Linked DNA regions of Homo sapiens. The protein of the gene in region 2 purifies or fractionates together with the protein of the main gene of each other region. This does not show direct contact. Each region holds a gene or a part of one and is shown on either strand. Other genes may lie near its edges.

Region 1 (7,027 bases), on a different chromosome or scaffold from region 2:
TTTGTGCATCATTAATGAAGATTACTTCTGCCAATTTTTTTTAATGGATGAATAGAACTTTGCAGTGTAGAAGTTGTTTTTTGTTGCTTGTGACATATGAATGTCAGGATAAATATATTTGCAAGAATAACATTTATTACTAGTTTAGGAATCAGACTGTAGTTAGAGTATTCAATTTAGGCTGCGAGATAAAGTTTTTGTAATATTCCAGAAGGTGGAAATCAGGGTGACTAATTCTGATTTCTTTGTAGACATTTGTGTGGTAGCACAGTAGATACTGTAGTTTTATGACAAAAGGGGAACTTTTCCCCACATTTTATACTATTTAGTTTGGTTTCATGGTTATTACAGAAAAAGAGAAACAGATTGGCTTGTATTAAATGTAGTTTTCTTTTAGGATGATGAAGATAATCTTGTGTTCTAATCTTGGCAACAACCATACAGTTTATATATATGGGTTAAATACGTTGTTATCCCCATAGTATCTAATATCATTTTATCAGTTTTTCTGTTAGCTTAGATGACAGCTGTTTAAGTTTCTAGGAAGTTTGGGGTGAGAATGTATTATTTAAGATGTGTTTTGGTCAGAAATTGGTCTATAATGGTATGTTTACTATTTTCGAAGACCAATTCTATTTAATTATTTCTTTCTACCAGGAAATATTTGATGATGCGTCACCTGGAAAGCAAAAGGAAATCCAAGAACCAGATCCTACCTATGAAGAAAAAATGGTATGTTCTAGGCTTGTGAATAGAGTCTATAAGGAAAACTTTTTATCAGGTGATTAAATGTACTAAACATCTATCTTAGTCCATTTTGTGTTACAACAATACCACAGACTGGGTAATTTATAAAGAAACGAAATTTATTTCTTAGAGTTCTGGAGGCTGGCAAGTCCAAGGTCAAGGCCAGCATTTGTTGAGGGCCTTCTTGCAGTGTCATTATATGGAGGAAGGCCAAGAGAAGAGAGCAAGACAGGACTGAACTTTCTTTTATAACAAGCTCACTGGTGATAACCTCCTCCTGAGATACTGACAGTAATCTTTTCCTAATCACCTCTTATTAGGCCCTACCTCCCAACACTGTTGCGTTGGGGATTAAATTACAACATGGGAGATTTGGAGGGGGACACAGTCAAACCATAGCAATGTCTGTTTAATTTTTGTAATTATGGCACAGATATCCATTTGAAATATGTGTAATATGGAATACTATAACTTCCATATCTTATGTGTCTATGTAAGCCAAATGGAAGTATTATATGAATTAACATAATATGATGTCATTATCTAGTTATGTTAACAACACCTTTAAAAATTTAACCTTGGAAGCGAGGTGAAGACCAGAATAGTTACTCAGTGTATGTTTATTCTGCACTTGACTAGCATTGTACTCTGCTAGTTACCAAAAAAAGAAATATGCTCCTTGTTCACAGCATTTTTATATTATAGATGGGGTCTTTACAAAAAGAACATGACATTATATTGGAGTCATTCAAGTCCCAGTTCACGTTCCGTATCTTCTAAGAAACTTCTCAAAACTATGACTTGACTTAAACAGTACCTACACAGAGCTTTAAATTTAAATTCAGTTTTAGTAATAGTAGTAGTGGCTAACAGTGAATGTTTACTCCGTATCTGACCCTGTTAGGAATGCTTTATATGGATTAAACTCATTTAATTGTATTGAAATCTCAAAAAGTTAAAATAACAATGTATTAAATAAGAATACCACTACACAGTGTGCTCCTGTAGGGTAAAAACAGTGTCTTAATCTTTCTTTCTGTCTTCAGTACCCAGAACAGTATCTGGCACATAGCAGATCTTACATATTTTTTAAAACATACTTTTTTCTTGTCCTTTGACTTTCTCTTCCAAATCAGTAAATATTTTTGAATGTCTTAAATAGCTTCAAAATCTTAAAATTATGGTATGTATTTTATGTGCATGTATAATATGCACAATACATATAACACTATGTAAATTATAAATGATATATCTTTAGGTTTGATTTGTTATATATTTTACATATGTATATATGTAACTGTCACCTTTTTTGCTATCAAACTTAGAGAAAAAATAGATTTGCCGCTCTGTTTTTTTAAAGTGAATACTACTTTGAATACAGTCTACATATTTTAATACTGCTTTAACCCTTTATAGTTTAGATTCTGACACACTCTGCTGGTGAATCTAATTGCCAATTCTGAGGCTTAGTTTTAGTTTCTTGATTTGTGCTTGACATTGTTGACCATTCCTCAAAAATCTTGACTTGCCTTGAAAGACATTTTTTCCCGTGATAATATCCTCTTTGCTTTTTTATTCCTTTGTCCTTCCTTATTAAAATTTGAACATTTCTTCCTAGACAGTTTGATTCTTACTGGTTTTTACCTGGTATCTTTAAACTGAATATTTTCAAATACTTAACCTCTAGCCCAGAAGCCTGTAATCCGTATTTTCATTTACTTTAAAATCCTATTCATACCTCTTACTTGAGAATATCCAAAACTGAATTCATAATTTTTACTTAGCATACCTTAGTGTTACCTCAATGAATGAAAGTTCCTCTTCAGGTATACTCAAGATGTTCATGACAGTACTGCATACTTGTAAACAATAAGTTTACTTACGAGTTTATTCTCTTTTCCATATCACCCTAGTTTAGTATTTTTCTATTATTGCATGGATTATTTTGTGCTTCTGTATTTGCCTCCTTTCTTATGATCTGGCCCCTTCCAAGTTTCTTAACATTTTTGCAAAGTGTTATTTATAACACAAATTTGACTGTGAAATGGAGGTTTTTCAGTGGCTCTCTACAATGCTTTTCATTTTCTTAGTGGCCTTTATTGGAACTCTTTTCGTTTCTTCCAGGTTTTTCAGTCTCCCAGCATTATTTCCTTTTTTGACATCATGATCTTCACCTGCACAGTTTTCTTCTAAGCAAGAAGCTCCCTTGTCATCTGCTAGTTCTAACCATAGATAAGTTCACTATCCACTCCTCGTTCTTGAACCCAGAATGCTGAGTACTACTTCAGAAAACTAAATACTAGTGCTGATTGGTGCCAGTATAAGTTTATGGTTTTTATTTTCTTGGACCTTGAGTATTTATTGCCTATCAGTCTCATTTAGCCATTCTAAAATGTCCCCACTCTGATCAGTCTTTCTTCTCCATTTCTACCATGCCCTCATTTCCAATCTTCCTCCACAAAGAATTGCAGGCCTGTCTTTATTTTCTTTCTCTTTTCAAACATATGTATAGCCTCTATTATCCTACCTCATTTCTTCCTGTTTCAGAGAAAGAAGCTAGTCCAAAGCTATTCACTTTAATTTCCGTTTGATTTTATAATTGATTTCTTTCAGGTTCCTAATCATACTCTCTTGTTTCTGCTTTTTAGGTTCTGTTGGTTTTTCTCCCTCAAGACATTTCAGTTTTAACCTTTTCATTCTTTCAAGCAGTTTATCTTGATTCCAAACATAATTACAATAATTATTTTTTCAGTCCAAACATCTTGTAGATGCGTGCTCTTGGCTTTTGTTTCATTATCTATAAATTAAGAAATGTAATTATGTAAAATATGCATTCACATATGTATCTTGTTCAGCACTTTAAAAACAGTCTGTAATCTTGGAAAACATAAATAACAGAGGCTTGTCATCTGTAGGACATTACTGGGGTTCTAGCATGTTCACAGTCTTGTTACTGTGCAGATTCATTTGCTGCTATGACTGCCATTTGTGACCCAATGAAACACTATAACCATGTGCCTTCCTAATAGCAAATTGGGCTTCAGTTTTTACATTGGTGTGACCTTAAAAAATGATTATGTTCCTTTTAAAAATACGTAGTTGTTACAACATTATGGCATTTGGATACTTCTTGTGTTTGCTAGGTAAAATGTCTTTTTGTAATTTATTCCCAAACTGACATTTTAAACATTTATAGACAGAGATGTTGAGTAGTTGGTTTCCCTGTTTATTGAGCTTTTCTTGTCTTGCTTCTCCTTTGTTTCATCAAACTATTATTGTTTTTGTATAAAGGCTGCCTAATGGCTCCCAATTTCATTATTTTTATGAAAATTTGTCTTCGAGGCTCTTAAGGTTTTTTTTGCCCAAGTAAATTTTTTCCATTCTCTCGGTATTATAATAGGGAACATTCAAAGGGGCAGATGGCAGATACGAAAGGAAGGAATAGTATCAATCCCAATACCGTTTTAAAATTTGTCACAGCCTAACTAATGAATGAGCACTGCATTTTTTCCAGCTTCTGAGTAAATTCACTTGTATTGCACAGTGTTTAATATTTTAAAAATTGTTCCGATCAACTGTATTGAAGTATAATTGACATAAAATAATTTTAAGTTTGTAATTCAATGAGTTTTAGCAAATATTTCTTTAAATACCATCACAATCATGATGCAGAGTAGTTCCATCATCCCCAAAGTTTGCTCCTGCTCCTTTCTAATCAGTTCTTGCTCCCACCTCCTTGCCACTTCTGATCTGCTTTCTATCACTAGTTAGCATTTCATTTAAGTGGAATCATACAGCATGTAGTCTTTTGTGTTTGGCTTCTTTCACTTTGCATAGTGCTTTTGAAACTCATCCATGTTGCATTTATCTGTAGTTCTCTTTTTTTTTTTGCTGAGTTCATTGTATGGAGGCATGCTGAAACTTTGATTTCTGAAGTTTTAATTGATACTCTGATAAAATGTATCTTAAATTTTTTTTTTTCAGCAAACTGACCGGGCAAATAGATTCGAGTATTTATTAAAGCAGACAGAACTTTTTGCACATTTCATTCAACCTGCTGCTCAGAAGACTCCAACTTCACCTTTGAAGATGAAACCAGGGCGCCCACGAATAAAAAAAGATGAGAAGCAGAACTTACTATCCGTTGGCGAGTGAGTAATAGTTTAAACTTCATAGTTCAACCAAACTTATTTTCGATAGTCTTCAGTGGAAGCATAAAATCACTATGATAAATAACTTAAAATTATTTTAGTGCCATTATTTATTTGGCCCTGTTTGGCTTGGCATGATTTAGCCATAAATGTATAAGTATATAAAAATACGCATAATGGTTAGAGCACAGTGGCTCTTGCCTGTAATCGCAGCATTTTGGGACGCCAAGGTGGGAGGATTGCTTGAGTCCGGGAGTATGAGAGCAGCCTGGGCAACGTAGGGAGATCCCATCTCTACAAAAAAAAAAAAAAAAAAAAAAAAGAATAAAACTGCATAACGCCTTATTTTTTGTAGCATTATATAGTTTATGAATTGTAACAATCATGTTGAGTATGGAATTTAGATGTCACGTCATTCCTCAGAGAGGAAACAAATGCAGAGGTTAAGTGGCTTGTTTAACATCACATTGAAGAATGATCCAGACTTGAATTTGAATCTGACTTGGGTGTGCTCTAGGCTCCTCCATCACATACAGATGTTGACAGTATTTTATCTAAAGTGTGGTGTGTGGGATATTGTGATGACTTACATCACGGCAGCCTGTTTAAAATTTTTATTGCATACTTAGTTGTTTTTATATAAATTGAAGTGTCACGTTGTATGCCGTCCTTTGGTGGTGGTTGAAAATAATTCTTACATGTTGAATTTGGAAATTCTCTAGAATTTTCATTCTGGTTGGATAAATAAGATGTTTAATTAGTAATAGTAGATTTAGGGCAGTCTTGGCTCCCTGAAATGGCTTTGTGTAATTCCCAAAGTGAAAACTGTGATTAGTAATTAAAATACAAAAGATTGTTTAAAAGAAGAAGTATCAACAAGGTTAAATTCACTACACAGTTTGTTGAAAGAGGGAAGTATGATCTTCATCTTGAAGGGGTTATCGTTGTAAGCATAATACCTTTTATTTGGGGTATTCCACTCATTCATTATATCTTATTTCTCATCCATTGTGACCAAAGCACTATTTTAATACTTACGAAACTTTGAAGGGACAATTTTGCCCTTCAGCTGTATTTAAAATATTTCAGACTTCAGAAGTTTGCATTAGTGTCATGGCATGAAACTGGAAACTACTGTACTGAATATTGTTATGGGATAGTCAGTATGATGTCTCGAAAAGAAACACTTCTTTTATTCTTTTCTATTTTATTATTATCCTAATTTATCTTTTTTATAAGATAAAAAAGATTCTATTGGAAATAGTAATAATAAATTGTTAGGCTTAATGTATTAAATAGTGTTATTAGGGAAAAAAGTCCTAGTTAACAGATTTCTTTACTCCTCAAACCATCTTAAATGGGAAGCTAATTTACCTAAAGTAATGAGGGTCATAGTATTGTCTTTGGGTATCAGGAATACATTTTTTTAAATCTTTTTTTGTTTGTTTGTTTTTATTGAGACAGAGTCTTGCTCTGTGGCCCAGGCTGGAGTGCGTGCAGTGGTGTGATCTCGGTTCACTGCAAGTTGTGCCTCTGGGGTTCAAGCGATTCTTGGACCTCAGCTGGGATTACAGGCTCACGCCACCACGCCCAGCTCATTTTTGTATTTTTGGTAGAGATGGGGTTTCACCATGTTGGCCAGGCTAGTCTCGAACTTCTGACCTCAAGTGATCCACCCACCTCTGCCTCCTAAAGTGTTGGGATTACAGGCGTGAGCCACTGTGCCTGGCCAGGAATACGTTTTTTTTTTAAGTCATTCACGATTATATTCAATTTTTAACAATAAATGACATCTCAGCTTTTAAGTTTTACAACTGTAATAATCAAACATTTTGAGAGTAACTATAAAGGATATTTTATAAAAAGAATTTAAAATTATCTCCCAGTTTATGGAGAATAAATAGGGGATGGAAGTAGATCTTTGTACTCAATTTCATAGGCTCAGAATGCAGAGAAGTACAAGGAATAACAGACTAGGATGTACTGATTATGATTAGAAGCATATATAACAAACAAGAAGGCCCTTGAATTTCTGAGGAATGCTTCTATCTTGGAAGGCCGCTTATCCTTTTAGCAAGCATGTGGTTTTGGTAGAAATGAAGTTACAAATTAGATTCAGCGGTCTCAAC
Region 2 (7,027 bases):
TGTTAGCCAGGATGGTCTCAATCTCCTGACCTCGTGATCTGCCCGCCTCGGCCTCCCAAAATGCTGGGATTACAGGCGTGAGCCACCGTGCCCGGCCCCTAAAGATGCCTTTTGAGTTTCATGTTGTAGGCGTCTTGTCTTCAAGACATGCAGACAAAATGAATGTATTCATTCAACAAAGTGATTGAGTCTGTGTGCATGAACTGAGAGGACAGTGAGACGGAGAAGTCCCTCCTGTGGAGCTTTTATTCTCGTGGAGCAGAAACCAGGCATTTGGCCTTCCTGAGCGCCCGTCATGCCCTGTTCTTTCTGGTTGCATCCCATTTTAGAGCTTCCCAGCATGGCCAGTGATTCTGATGACAACCATCCCCTCCCAGTGTGTTTCACGTGCATCTGCCTAGAGTCCGTGAGCCACAAGCCGTCTCTCAGCCTCTTACGAATCGGGCAACCCACGGTTAAGGACATTTCCATTCTCCGGCCCACTGTAAGAGTGAATGTAGAGGTGCTAGGTTTTACCTTTGTGTCCGTGAAAGGGGTGAAAGGAAGTGTACAGGGACCCCAATGTCCTGCCCTCTTTCAGGGACTCAAACAATTTCCAGGTGGGGCTTGAATCACCACACATCCACCTTAATCTGACTCAGGCATGTTCTTCACATTAATACTGTCATTTCAGCTACTGAGTTATTTTTTCTCCTCTTTTTTTTTTTTTTTGCAGCAGAGCCGTTGCCTGGCCTTGAAGAGAAACCACCAGGTGTTGGTACTTCAGAGGGGGTCTACCTCACACAACTACCTCACCCCACACCTCCCCTGCAGACTGACTGCACCAGGCAGAGCTCACCACAAGAAAGGGAAACAGTGGGCCCGGAGCTCAAAAGCAGCTCCTCCGAATCTGCGGACAACTGTAAAGCAATGAAGGGCAAGAATCCCTGGCCCTCGGATAGCAGCTACCCCGGCCCAGCCGCCCAAGGGTGCGTGAGAGACCTCTCCACGGTGGCAGACAGGGGCGCTCTATCCGAGAACGGAGTCATTGGGGAAGCATCTCCTTGTGGATCGGAGGGGAAGGGCCTTGGTAGCAGTGGTTCCGAAAAGCTGCTCTGCCCCAGAGGCAGAACGTTGCAGGAAACCATGCCATGCACGGGACAGAACGCAGCGACACCGCCCAGCACAGACCCCGGTTTGACGGGAGGCACTGTGAGCCAGTTTCCCCCGCTGTATATGCCTGGCCTAGAGTACCCGAATTCAGCTGCCCATTACCACATCAGTCCAGGCCTGCAGGGTGTGGGCCCTGTGATGGGAGGGAAGTCCCCAGCATCCCATCCCCAGCATTTTCCCCCAAGGGGCTTTCAGTCTAACCACCCACATTCTGGAGGCTTTCCCCGGTATCGCCCCCCACAAGGAATGAGGTATTCCTACCACCCACCGCCACAGCCTTCCTACCACCACTATCAGCGAACTCCTTACTATGCCTGTCCACAGAGCTTTTCTGACTGGCAGAGACCTCTCCATCCCCAGGGAAGCCCAAGCGGACCCCCAGCCAGTCAGCCTCCCCCACCAAGGTCCCTCTTCTCAGATAAGAATGCCATGGCCAGTCTGCAAGGCTGTGAGACACTGAATGCTGCCTTAACTTCTCCAACCCGTATGGATGCAGTGGCTGCTAAAGTCCCAAATGACGGGCAGAATCCTGGTCCAGAGGAAGAGAAGCTGGATGAATCTATGGAGAGGCCAGAGAGTCCCAAAGAATTTTTAGACCTGGACAACCATAACGCAGCTACCAAGCGGCAGAGCTCGTTGTCAGCCAGCGAGTATCTCTATGGAACTCCTCCGCCTCTGAGTTCAGGAATGGGATTTGGTTCATCTGCATTTCCACCCCACAGTGTGATGCTGCAGACGGGGCCTCCCTATACCCCTCAGCGGCCGGCCAGTCACTTTCAGCCCAGGGCTTACTCTTCCCCTGTGGCTGCCCTCCCACCTCACCACCCAGGGGCCACCCAGCCCAACGGCCTCTCTCAGGAGGGTCCCATCTATCGCTGCCAGGAAGAAGGCCTGGGTCACTTTCAAGCTGTGATGATGGAACAAATTGGCACTAGAAGTGGAATAAGAGGACCTTTCCAGGAAATGTACAGACCATCAGGGTAAGATTGCATTCAGGCTTTTCCCCCTAAAGAGAGAACAGATGTTTATTTTATGTATTTATTTTTGAGACAGAGTCTCACTTTGTCACCCAGGCTGGAGTGCAGTGGTGTGATCATGGCTCACGGCGGCATCGACCTCCCAGGCTCAAGGATCCTCCTGCATCAGCTGTTTAAGTAACTGGGACTACACACATGCCACCACACCCAGCTAACTTTTTGGTTTTTTTTTTTTTTTTTTTTTGGTGGAGGTAGGGTTTCACCGTGTTGCCCAGGCTGGTCCTAGTCTCCTGAGCGCAAGTCATCCTCCTGCCTCAGCCTGTCAAAGTGCTGAGATTACAGGCATGAGCCAGCACACCTGGCCTGGATGTTCATTTTAAACAGAAAAATGGCCTTAGAGATGAAGATAACAGTTCATGGTCTAGGAACAAAAAAAATATGTGAATTATTGATGTTGTACACTCTGTAGGAAGGTATTAAACTTAGAGCCCAACTTTATCTTTGAAATTTTTTCCACTCATGAAAATGAACTGGCATTTAAATGACTGACTTAGATTTTGATATTGTAAACTTTATTTATTTATTTATTTATTTATTTATTTTTGAGATTAAGTCTCACTCTGTGGCCCAGGGTGGAGTGCAGTGGTACGATCTCTGCTCACTGCAATCTCTGCCTCCCAGGTTCAAGCGATTCTCCTGCCTCATCCTCCCAAGTAGCTGGGATTACAGGTGCCCGCCACCACACCTGGCTGAGTTTTGTATGATACTATAAACTTAATAACCACAGTTTGAGAGCTGTAAGCAAGCCTGTGTCAACATTGCTGCCATGTGGAGACACTCTGACCAAGGTAAAAAAAAAAAAAAAAATAGGCCTACCCAGGAGTAGAAGAGGAGATCATGTAGTATTGAAGTTTTACTACATACCTCTCATTTCTTACCCTATCATTGAATGAGAAAACCAGGTTTATCCAGAATGCAAACAAGTCCCCATGAGACTTCTTTCACACATGCTTGTGTAGTGTTGTTCTCCAGATCCAGTTAGGTGATCTGCCATCCAGGAAGTTTTCAAATCGATAGATACAAATGAAAGTTATGAAGCGGCCAGGCGCGGTGGCTCACACCTGTAATCCCAGCACTTCGGGAGGCCGAGGCGGGCAGATCACGAGGTCAGGAGATTGAGACCATCCTGGCTAACACGGTGAAACCCCGTCTCTACTAAAAATACAAAAAATTAGCCGGGCGTGGTGGTGGGCACCTGTAGTCCCAGCTACTCGGGAGGCTGAGGCAGGAGAATGGCGTGAACCTGGGAGGCGGAGCTTGCAGTGAGCCAAGATCATGCCACTGCACTCCAGCCTGGGCAACAGAGCAAGACTCTGTCTCAAAAAAAAAAAGTTATGAAGCATAGTCTTGAAACCAGTACCATTCAGCATAAAAACCAGTGTTCCCCTCCTCAGTGCCATCCTGTCATCTTATTGCTAGACCCTCTCTACTATTTAACATTTTGTCGTGTTTGCTTTATATGTCTCTAAATACCTGTTTTCTTTGCTTTGCTTTTTTTCCTAAGCTGTTGGAAAGTAAATTGTAGACATCATGGCCCTTAACCCCTCAATACTTGAGCATGCATCTCCTAAGAATGGACATGCCTTGGAGCACCATTTCAAAACGATTACCACACTCAAGGCAAATAACAGTATCTAATAGAGTTTTTGTTTCTGTTTCCTCAGTTGTCCCCAGAGTGTCTTTTAGAGTCGTTTCTTTGTGTTCTATTTTTATTGTTTTTTTCTGATAAAGGATCCAATGAAGGCTCATGGATTTGCATTTGGCTGCCGTGTCTGTTTAGTCTCTTAATTTATAGCAGTTGTCATATCTTTGTTTTGTTTTCCAAAGAGTCCAGGCCAGTTATCATGGAGAGTGTTCCAGATTCCAGATTCATCACACAGTCTCCTTGTGTGTAGATGAAACTCTTGTGCCAGGTGCAGTGGTTCATACCTATAATCCCAGCACTTTCGGGGGCTGAGGCAGGAGGATTGCTTAAGCTCAGGAGTTCGAGACCAGCCTCGGCAACATAGTGAGATCCTGTCTCTAGTGAAAATAAAGAACTTAGCCAGGCATGGTAGCACACACTACTCAGGAGGGTGAGGCAGGAGGAGCACTTGAGCCCAGAAGATTGAGGCTGCAGTAAACCATGATCCTGCCACTACATTCTAACAGGGTGACAGAGCAAGACCCTGTCTCTAAAAGAAAAAAAAAAATAGATTAAACACTTTTGTCAGGAGTGCAGTAGGTGGTGCGTGTGCGTGCCACTTACTGCCCCAGGGGGCACAGAATGTCGAGTTGTCCCAGTATGGATGATTCCAGGCCTGATCACCGGGGTGATGAAGGCAGTACCCTCGTGACTACAGTGTCTTGTTTCTTCTGTCGTTAACACGTCTTCATTAATTCTTCATTGCTTCTTTCTCGTGGCTGTAGAATGCAGATGCACCCGGTCCAGTCGCAGGCCTCGTTCCCAAAGACCCCCACAGCAGCAACATCACAGGAGGAGGTGCCGCCTCATAAGCCTCCAACACTTCCCCTGGATCAGGTAAGGATCACTAAAAATTAGAGCTGTTCTTCTTCCTCCAGGTGGTAGGAAGTAAGTATATGACAACCTTGCTGTTCTGAAAAAATGTTTTAAGGTATCCTGTGGATACAGGAACTTTGCCTGTATCGTGCTTCCTTGGCACTTGGAAAAAGAGCAAGAGGCCTCGGAAGTCACCTCTCACATGTCTCTTTTTCTTATTGTGATATGGAATGCATACCTATTTGGTGAGTATTTAAACCTCATTTTTTCCAAGCCATCTGCAAACATTTTTTCTGCCATGATCCCTTGTCTGTTTTATGCTTCCCACCTTTCTCATTGGAGAGAGACTAGTTGGTGGGTTTTAAAGTAGTAATAGCTGCCTCTGAGTGCTGCTTCTCTCCCATGCGTTGTCTCGTGCAGTGCTTCTCTCCCATGCAGTCTTTCCCTTGACCCCCACAAAGTAGTTCTCATTGGCTGCATCATCATCATTTCCCAGTGTGCAAGTCCTACTACTGTTAAGCACTGGGACTGGGATCTGAATTGAGAAGTCCAGGACTCTAGAACCTACCCTCTGGAAGTAAACTGTAACTGATGAAACAGAATCAAGCCATTTTCACACATGAGGAGCTTGGACATTCTTTGGCTTACTTAAGTTTTTTTTTTTTTAACAACCCAATTTTTATTTTTGTTTAAAATGTCTTTGTTTCTTTCAGAGCTAGTCCAAGGAGGAAATGAGCCCCAAGCAATGGAAAGCTGCACACGAAGACTGGAATGTGGAGAACTGGGGAGTGCCCTGTCAGCTCTATTCCCATCACCTGCTCCACCCCTTCACGGCGACCCACTCGTGCCATACTTGAGCTGGAGCCAGTCACGGGCCCTAAAAGGACACTCCTTAGATGACTGACACACAGATTGCAAAGGTCCTCGGCCAGGGATCTCTTGCACAGCTGATGTAGACAGTCAGGCAAAACTAATGAACGTGGAGTTAATGATGACTTTTCCAAATCCTGAGACACTTTTCAGGGAAAATCACTTTAAACTTGGGGGAGGGGGTATACTCAAGAATGGAGTGGTGCTTTTAAACTTTGATGAGCAGCTAAACTCAGGTATATATTTGGGGAAGGGACTACTCTTAGTATTAATGGTTTTGGAGCTGGGTCCAGTTTACAGAATTTTCATGTTGCCTTTTAAAATAATTTTTGTTGGTGGTGAATGTATTGTACATAAAGTGGGAAGGGTGGGTGGGGATGCGGAAGAAATGGGGGTCCTAACTGGTGGGCACACAGCACTGGAGTGATTTTTATCTGTTTACAATCATGTCACACTGAATACTTATGGGAGCCGGAGATGAGGGTAGGAAAGGTTTGATCTTGTAATATGTCACTGTGTTTCCTTAGTGGCCAGCCAGCCTTCAGAATAGCTAAAGGCCTTCCTTCCTTCCAGTCAGCCTGAGAGAGAACACCTGTCCCCTAAGCACCTGGTGTCTCCATTGGAGGCAGACTGCTCTCAGGAGACTACTAGAAGCTTCAGCCCGGAAGACAGGCTGCTCTCTCATGCTGGTGGCCCAAATTGAGAAAGTGGTGTCCCTTCCTGATTTTGCCACCAGCCCTACCGAATAGTTGTAAACCAGTATCAGGAATTGGGATCGCTAGAGTGTTTCACGTATTAGAAGATGAATCGTCCTCATCACAGACCTCCCTGTCAGGACTGTGATCTAGAAGGCATCACACACAGCTTTCTGGCACGAATCACATTTTGTGGAAGTGACTACTCAGGTTTGTATATTTTAGTATCAATAAAGAATTGCACAGGTTTGAATAGGAAAAATGTATTCTATAGATTTACAGTTTGAATTTAGGAATATTTCAGTATATATAGTTTTTATTCGTTTTAAGTGAATCATAGTAAAATCAGTCATGGTGATTTAAAATAGCTATCAAGAACAAGTTCTTGGAATTATCTGTTGTATCTGTGATAGGAAACCATTTTACAGTATTAAATTACTTTATTACAGTTGTAGAGTTGAATTACACTGGATTCTCCCTCGTTAGCATTCTGTATTTGATTTTAGCTGAAAGGTCACCAAAGTTAGGACCCATGTTTTAAACTTTTGAATATTCCACAAAAGAAAAAACTAAGGAAAATACTGAAATTACAGGTCTTTGTAAAGAATAGCATATTTTTAAGCATGCTTTTGGGATAGTAGAAGAGTCTCTATGAAATATTAATCTGCCCTAGTTTCTTATAAATTCAGCTGTGGGAGGGGCCAGTAGAGTGTTTCCCTCCAATTCCAGGATTCCTAGTGAAGCATGGAACTGTCGTGTTTACAGTTTGCTAA

Evidence for each region. The genes of interacting proteins can lie anywhere in the genome.
Region 1: the proteins of CECR2 (region 2) and SMARCA5 purify together in Homo sapiens (affinity purification with mass spectrometry; 3 studies listed by BioGRID and IntAct, with this or other methods). This does not show direct contact.

Annotation. Positions count from the first base shown.
Region 1 is NC_000004.12:143,516,698-143,523,724, forward strand, and holds part of SMARCA5 (SWI/SNF-related matrix-associated actin-dependent regulator of chromatin subfamily A member 5), read left to right. Parts: intron 1-657; coding exon 658-732; intron 733-4,731; coding exon 4,732-4,898; intron 4,899-7,027. UniProt on the Homo sapiens protein: ATPase that possesses intrinsic ATP-dependent nucleosome-remodeling activity.
Region 2 is NC_000022.11:17,547,433-17,554,459, forward strand, and holds part of CECR2 (chromatin remodeling regulator CECR2), read left to right. Parts: intron 1-715; coding exon 716-2,132; intron 2,133-4,598; coding exon 4,599-4,710; intron 4,711-5,402; coding exon 5,403-5,408; 3' UTR 5,409-7,027. UniProt on the Homo sapiens protein: Regulatory subunit of the ATP-dependent CERF-1 and CERF-5 ISWI chromatin remodeling complexes, which form ordered nucleosome arrays on chromatin and facilitate access to DNA during DNA-templated processes such as DNA replication, transcription, and repair.